Linked DNA regions of Homo sapiens. The protein of the gene in region 2 interacts with the protein of the main gene of each other region in a biochemical or structural test. Each region holds a gene or a part of one and is shown on either strand. Other genes may lie near its edges.

Region 1 (3,831 bases), on a different chromosome or scaffold from region 2:
ACAAAACTATATTCACATTAACAACAGAATAACCCAAATCCAGCGAATAAGTCACTAGGTCAGAAAATATATATACTTTTGGCCCCAAAATATTTTTCTAACCTTTTCTTTTCTGAGATTCTCCAACTTTCCGGAAGTTAGTTTACTTTCTCTCTGAACTTTTTTGTCTTCAATCTTTGCTTCTACAGATGACATCCACTGTATAGTAGCACCTTCTTCTTGGGAAGCAATTTCTAAAATATATTTTTAAAAAGTAAAAGATTTTAACAGTCTAGGCAACATAGTGAGGACCCGTCTCTTCAAAAAAAAATTAAAAATTAGTCAAGGGTGGGTGGTGGTGCAAGCCTGTAGTCCCAGCTACTTAGGAGGCTGAGTGGGGAGGATCATTTGAGCCTGGGAGGTTGAGGCTGCAGACAGCTGTGATCATGCCACTGCATTCCAGCCTGGGTAACAGAGAAAAACCTTGTCTCAAAAAAAAAAAAAAAGAAAAAAGGTTTTAATCTTGGATGTATGTGTAGCAAGAAAGCCATACCTTCACACTAAAAAAGGAAAAAGTACAGCTGATCCAACTAGATAAGAGAAAGTAATAGGATGTATAAAAATGGAAATGAAAAGGCAAGTTCTGTGTTGGTATGATCAGAGTTCTGAAGCTTACTATCTTCCCTTTGTTGGCTGTTTCAGCAGTGTACTTAGTATACTTGAAAACAACAGGGGATTAATTGAAAAGCAACTTAAACAATGATAAATTTCTTTCCTTTTTTTTTTTTTTTTTTTGTTTGAGACAGAGTCTTGCTCTGTCGCCCAGGCTGAAGTGCAGTGGTGCGATCTCGGCTCACTGCAACTGCTGCCTCCCTGGTTCAAGAAATTCTCTGCCTCAGCCTCCCAAGTAGCTGGGATTACAGGAATCCGCCACCATGCCCGGCTAATTTTGTTTTGTATTTTTAGTAGAGACGAGGTTTCACCATCTTGGCCAGGCTGGTCTCAAACACCTGACCTCAAGTGATCCGCCCGCCTCGGCCTCTCACAGTGCTGGGATTACAGGCGTGAGCCACCGTGCCCAGCCAAATGAGAAATTTCAATAAGGCAGCCACGTTCTCTATATGTAAACAACCAACAACTAAAAAATAAATATAATGAAAGATCTCACTTAAAATAGCAATGAACGGCCAGGTGCGGTGGCTCATGCCTGTAATCCCAGCACTTTGGGAGGCCAAGGTGGGTGGATCACCTGAGGTCAGGAGTTTAAGACCAGCCTGGACAACATGATGAAACCCTGTCCCTACAAAAATACACAAATTAGCCAGGCATGATGGCAGGTGCCTGTAATCCTAGTTACTCAGGAGGCTGAGGCAGGAGAATCACCTGAAGCCAGGAGGTGGGGGTTGCAGTGAGCCAAGATTGTGCCACTGCACTCCAGCCTCGGCAACAGAGCAAGACTCTGTCTCTAAATAAATAAATAGCAATGAACATAACACAATACTTTGAACTACTCAGTATTATAAAGATAGCCTTTCTCCCTCAATCTATGAAGAACACTAGCCAATTAAAAGTAATGGCAGAATTGTTTTGGTGACTAGATCAGCTGACTTAACAGTTTGTATGGGAGAATAAATATGTAAGACTAACCTAAATTTTTTTTTTTTTTTGAGATGGAGTCTTGCTCTGTCACCCAGGCTGGAGTGCAGTGGCATGATCTTGGCTCACTGCAACCTCTGTCTCCCAGGTGATTATCAGCCTCCCGAGTAGCTGGGACTACAGAGGCATGCCACCATGTCCAGCTAATTTTTGTATTTTTAGTAGAGACGGGGTTTCACCACGTTGGCCAGGCTGGTCTCAAACTCCTGACCTCGTGATCCGCCCGCCTCAGCCTCCCAAAGTTTTGGGATTACAGGTGTGAGCCACCGCGCCTGGCCTAACCTAAAAACATTTTAAGTTTAACAAGCAAAGACTAGTTCTACAAAGCAAAGACTAGTTCTAATTTCTAAATTAGTTCTAAAACTAGCAAAGACTAGTTCTAATTTCTTAATTTTTTCAACTTCACTGAGGCATAAATATATACAATAATCTGCATATATTTAAAGTATCTAATTTGCTGAGTTTTGACATATCTACACACCCAAAAAACTATCACCACATTCAAGGTTATTTCTATCACTTCTCCAGATTTCCTCATGACACCTTATAATCCATCACTCCATGCATAGGCAACCACCAATCTAATTTCTGCCACTATAGACTAGTTTGCCTTTTCTGGAATTTTATATAAACGGAATCATGTCATATGTACTAATTTTTGTCTGGCTTCTTTCACTCAAGATAGTTGTTTTGAAATTCACCTATGTTGCACCATGTATCAACAACTTACCGTTTTATTACTAGGTAGTATTCCATTGTAATGGATGTACAGTTCATCATTCACCTGATGAGGGACATTTGGGTCATTTCCAGCTTTTGGCTATAAGCAATGTTGCTATGAAAATTTGTGTACAAGTCTTCCTGAAGATGTATATTTTCCTGTCTCTTAGGTAAATATTCCAAGTGGAATAGCTGGGTAATATGGTAAATATATGTTTAACTTAAAAAAAAAGTCCCAAACTATTTTCCAAAGTGGTTGTACCATTTTACCATCAACACTGTGAGAGCTTGTTTCTGTACATCCTTGCCCATACTTGGTATGGTCACTCTTTTTTATTTTTAGCCATTCTAATGGGTATGTAGTAGTACTGTATTGTGGTTTTAATTTGCCTGATGGCTACTGATGTTGAGTATCTTTTATGTGCTTATCACCATGTGTATTATCTTCTTTAGTGAGTAGATACAAGTCCTTTGATATACATTTTGCAAATATTTTCCCATCTGTGGCTTGCCTTTTCATTTTCTTAATGTTATCTTTTGAAGAATGAAAATTTTTAGTTTCGATAAGTCCAATATATCAATTTTTTCTTTTTAAAGAATTTTGTTGTTGTTGTGCTAAGGAACCTTGACATATCTCAAGGCCACAAAGATTTTTTTCCTGTTTTCTTCTGGAACTTTTATAGTTTTAAAACTTCAGTCTGAGTCATTTGAAGTTAATTTTTGCTTACAATATAAAGTTAGGTTTGATGTTCACTTTTTTCCCCATGGATCCAGTCCGTTTGTCGAAAAGACTTTCTTTTCCCCGCTGAATTACCTTATTACCTCTGTTGAGAACTAATTGACCATATATGCATGGGTTTGTGGACTAGCTGTTCTGTTTCACTGATCTATATATAAGGGGGTCTTCAAAAAGTTCATGGAAAATCCGTATTATGAAGAAACTATGCAAAAATTTCAAAATTTTTTGCACCAAAATAAACTCATACCAACTTGTTACAATACGGGTGAACTAGATCTAGTCTGAGACACTAAGAAGGATAAGACAGCAGTTTGAAAACAGCAACATGAATTCTGCTTAAAACTGAAGCAAGAACAAACTCCAAATTTACAGTGAAGCTTCGGTAGAAGAATAGTGAAATCACTGATGCTTTATGAAAAGTTTATGGGGACAAAGAAATCACCTGTTTACAAATGGATAACTTGTTTTAAGAAGGAACAAGATAATATTGAAGATGGAAGTCTGTAGCAGCAGACCACCCGCATCAATTTATAAGGAAAAAATTCATCTTGTTCATGCCCTAATTGAAGAGGACTGTTGATTAACAGCAGAAACAATAGCCAACACCACAGACATCTGAGTGTATATAACCAATTACAAGCTCATGCTTGTAATCCCAAATATATATATATGGTTTGGCTTACACCACATATATATTTTTTTCAAGATAGGGTTTTGTTCTGTCAGCCAGGCTAGAG
Region 2 (3,161 bases):
TCTTTCTAGTAGGAAGTCAATAAATAATTGATGTATCAAAAAGTAGCGGTATAATCATACAATTTGGAAATATAAATTCTTCAACTACTAGAATTGAAAGAGGAAGTTTCTTCTGTCAATGTGAAAGAGGGACTGCCTCTTTTTTTGTCACAAGCCTTTTAGAACTGTAAGATTTTTTAAAACTGTTTGCATATAATGTTTGAAGGTGGGAATGGGACCAGAGAGGCGACAATTTTACCTGGAGAAACAACCTCCCGAAACCATTTAGTAAGTAAAGTGAATTCCATCACACCTACACCCATTCACTGTTTTTATTTTTTTTTTGAGACATGTTCTCACTCTGTTGCCCAGGCTGGAGTGAAGTGACACGAACTGGGCTCACTGCAATCTCTGCCTCCCAGGTTCAAGCGATTCTCATGCCTCAGCCTCCTGAGTAGCTGGAATTACAACTGTGCACCATCATGCCCAGCTAATTTTTGTATTTTAGTAGAGATGGGGTTTTGCCATGCTGGCTAGACTGGTCACTGTTTTTATTTTATAATTAATTTTAGCTAAAGCATATGGGTTCATTTACAAAAATAAGTTTGGTCTTTTATTATAAATACTTCTAGTTGTAAAAAATTCATTTTCACATTTGAATGTCCTTGAAAGTATCCAAAGGATTCATTCTCCTTCTGCATTCTGCTTCTCAGAAAGTACTTTTGGGTTAGATCTGTTCCGAATTCTTTTTCTTTTTCTTTTCTTTTCAGAAGCAGATGATTGTGTGTCCGGTGCCTTTTTCTTTTTCTTCAAACAACTAAGAGGATTGGGACCACTTATTTTCTTGCGCTTTTTTCTTCTACTCTGTTCAGTGTTTTTCACTAAACCCTGTTCCTCTTTGAGATGTTTGATACTTTCTTTCTCATGCACTGAGACAAGCTGACCTGACTCCACTGCTTTTACAAAGGCAATTGTTTTGGGAGAAGGTTTGTCCAAAACCATAGTGTTCTGAATAATAAACATGAGAGGAACTCCAGGCTTCTTTTTTACTTTCACAGACAAATTCTGATCCTATTTAAAAGAAAACAGAATTATTTAGTTCAAATGTCAATTAAGGTACCTTAAATAGGTTTTCAAGAACTGTATTAAAAATAAAAGAGATCACAGATTTTATTTTTCAAATGAGTAAGCCTCACTTATTCATTTGAGTAATGGGGGTATATTTCATGATAAAGGAAGAAAAACATAAAAACTGAGCACAGTGTTAGTAGCAGCTGTGTGAACCGGATTTATCGATACTCTAGAGCCACAAATTACAAACTAATGCAAAGGTAAATGTGTTAGGTGGGTTTCTCCTGTTTCCACTCTAAGATATTCTTTGGAAAGGGTCAAGAATGCTTAAAGAGGTTAAAGGAAAAGAAACTGGGTAGTAATTAGCTACTCAGATTCTAAATTCAGCTCTACCTCTGTGTAATTTTATAATTCTGATAATCAAATCTGTATGTATGTGAACTTAATATCACCCCCAAAAGTCTCTCTTCTCCTGCCTTCAAGAAGATGGGAATATTTTTCTTCAAAAGCCTGAAATATTTCATACTGTTGGTACAGTCTTAAGCAGTATGAACCATGACTTTGAGAAACAGTATGAAATACAGGAACATGAAAAAAATTAACAGAATACAGGCACTTTGCTCTACTTATCTTCCCTTCAAGAACCCTACAACAAATCATCACATCTCATGTCAACAATTTCTTGTTTTAAAAAAAGAAACTTCTGCCAGTGTCCAGCATGATGGCAAACACCTGTAATCCCAGGTACTCAGGAGCTGAGGTGGAAGGATCACTTTAGCCTAGGGGTTCGAGACCAGCCTAGGCAATATAGTGAGACCCTCAAGTCTCAAGAAACAAACAAAAAAAGCAAAACAAAGGAATCATTAAAAAAAACAAAACCCAACCTTCCACTACTAAAAAGAATATCAACATGCTTAAAGTTTTCCTCAAATTCTCAAATGACAATTGCTTTTACTGACTGCAAATTAACTTAGAAGCCTGTATTTTTAAAAGTCTAATCATTCTAACTTTTTTCTGATTATAAATAGCTCCATATGAAGTATAAATAGAAATGGTGAAAATTGCCTGTGGTTTTAAAAGTAGTATCACCTGTGTTGCCACAAAATAATGATGAGGATTTCCCTCTTCAACCATGGAAAGCAGACATTCTGATCCACTCACTGCATTCTTGAAATGAGGACAATTTCGAACTTGGCATTTTTGTGCAATCAGTTTTGCCCCATATAAGTCCTTTCCCAATGTTTCTAGCTCTTTTAACACACATCTGAAAAGAAAAATTATAGCAGATACATTTCACTTGTTTACATAAGGTGTAAAAAACAATAGTCGATTTTTTCTTAAAATAAAACTATGCTGTTACAATCTAAATTTGTCATCTGGTAACCATTTACTTTAAAAGATCACTTGAAAAATGCATTTACCAAGTAGGAAGAACAACAGTTAAAATTAACTGAGCACTTATTATGTTCCATGTAGTATGCAAATTGCTCTTTACATAAATTCTTGATTAATCTCAAAGTAACCCTATGAAGTTAGGTCGCTTACCTTGAAATTATCCTTATTTTAGAGCACCCCATTCTGAGATTTCAAGTAACATGCCAAAGTTCAAGTAACTAGCAAGTGGTACCGAGACTTGCAGTTTGACAACAGCTCCCTTGTCCCAACCATAGCGTAATAAGCTTCTGCTTCAAGTACAAATTGGTATACTTTCAAAACATTTTCAATTCAGAACAGTAAAACTTCTCACATCATCAAGTTGTTTTTAAAAAAACATTTAGTCATAAGAGTTCCTCAACCCTAGCCAGCATTTGCCAGATTCTTTCTTGCTTCATCTCCTTTATCATCTTTCTGTTTCAAGAAGATTTTGCTTGCTTTAGTCATTAGACTTGACCTCTATTTTGAGTACTGCCAGCCTGTGGATGTCCTGCTATCAACTCTTCAAATTCACCATGTCTAAGATCAAACCACTTTCCTGTATCCAAATTTATCCTCCAAGACTTGCTATCTCTTTGAAATTACTATTTTCCCAGACACCCTAGATAGAAATCAGAAATCACATTTGACCTTCCTGCCCTTCTTCACCCATACTCCTATGCCATCAGCTGCTCAAC

What was found.
Region 1: the proteins of UTP23 (region 2) and DDX52 form a complex in vitro, tested with the Homo sapiens proteins (one study listed by BioGRID).

The regions. Positions count from the first base shown.
Region 1 is NC_000017.11:37,633,186-37,637,016, forward strand, and holds part of DDX52 (probable ATP-dependent RNA helicase DDX52), read right to left. Parts: intron 234-3,831; coding exon 103-233; intron 1-102.
Region 2 is NC_000008.11:116,769,345-116,772,505, reverse strand, and holds part of UTP23 (rRNA-processing protein UTP23 homolog), read right to left. Parts: intron 2,315-3,161; coding exon 2,140-2,314; intron 1,051-2,139; coding exon 664-1,050; 3' UTR 1-663. UniProt on the Homo sapiens protein: Involved in rRNA-processing and ribosome biogenesis.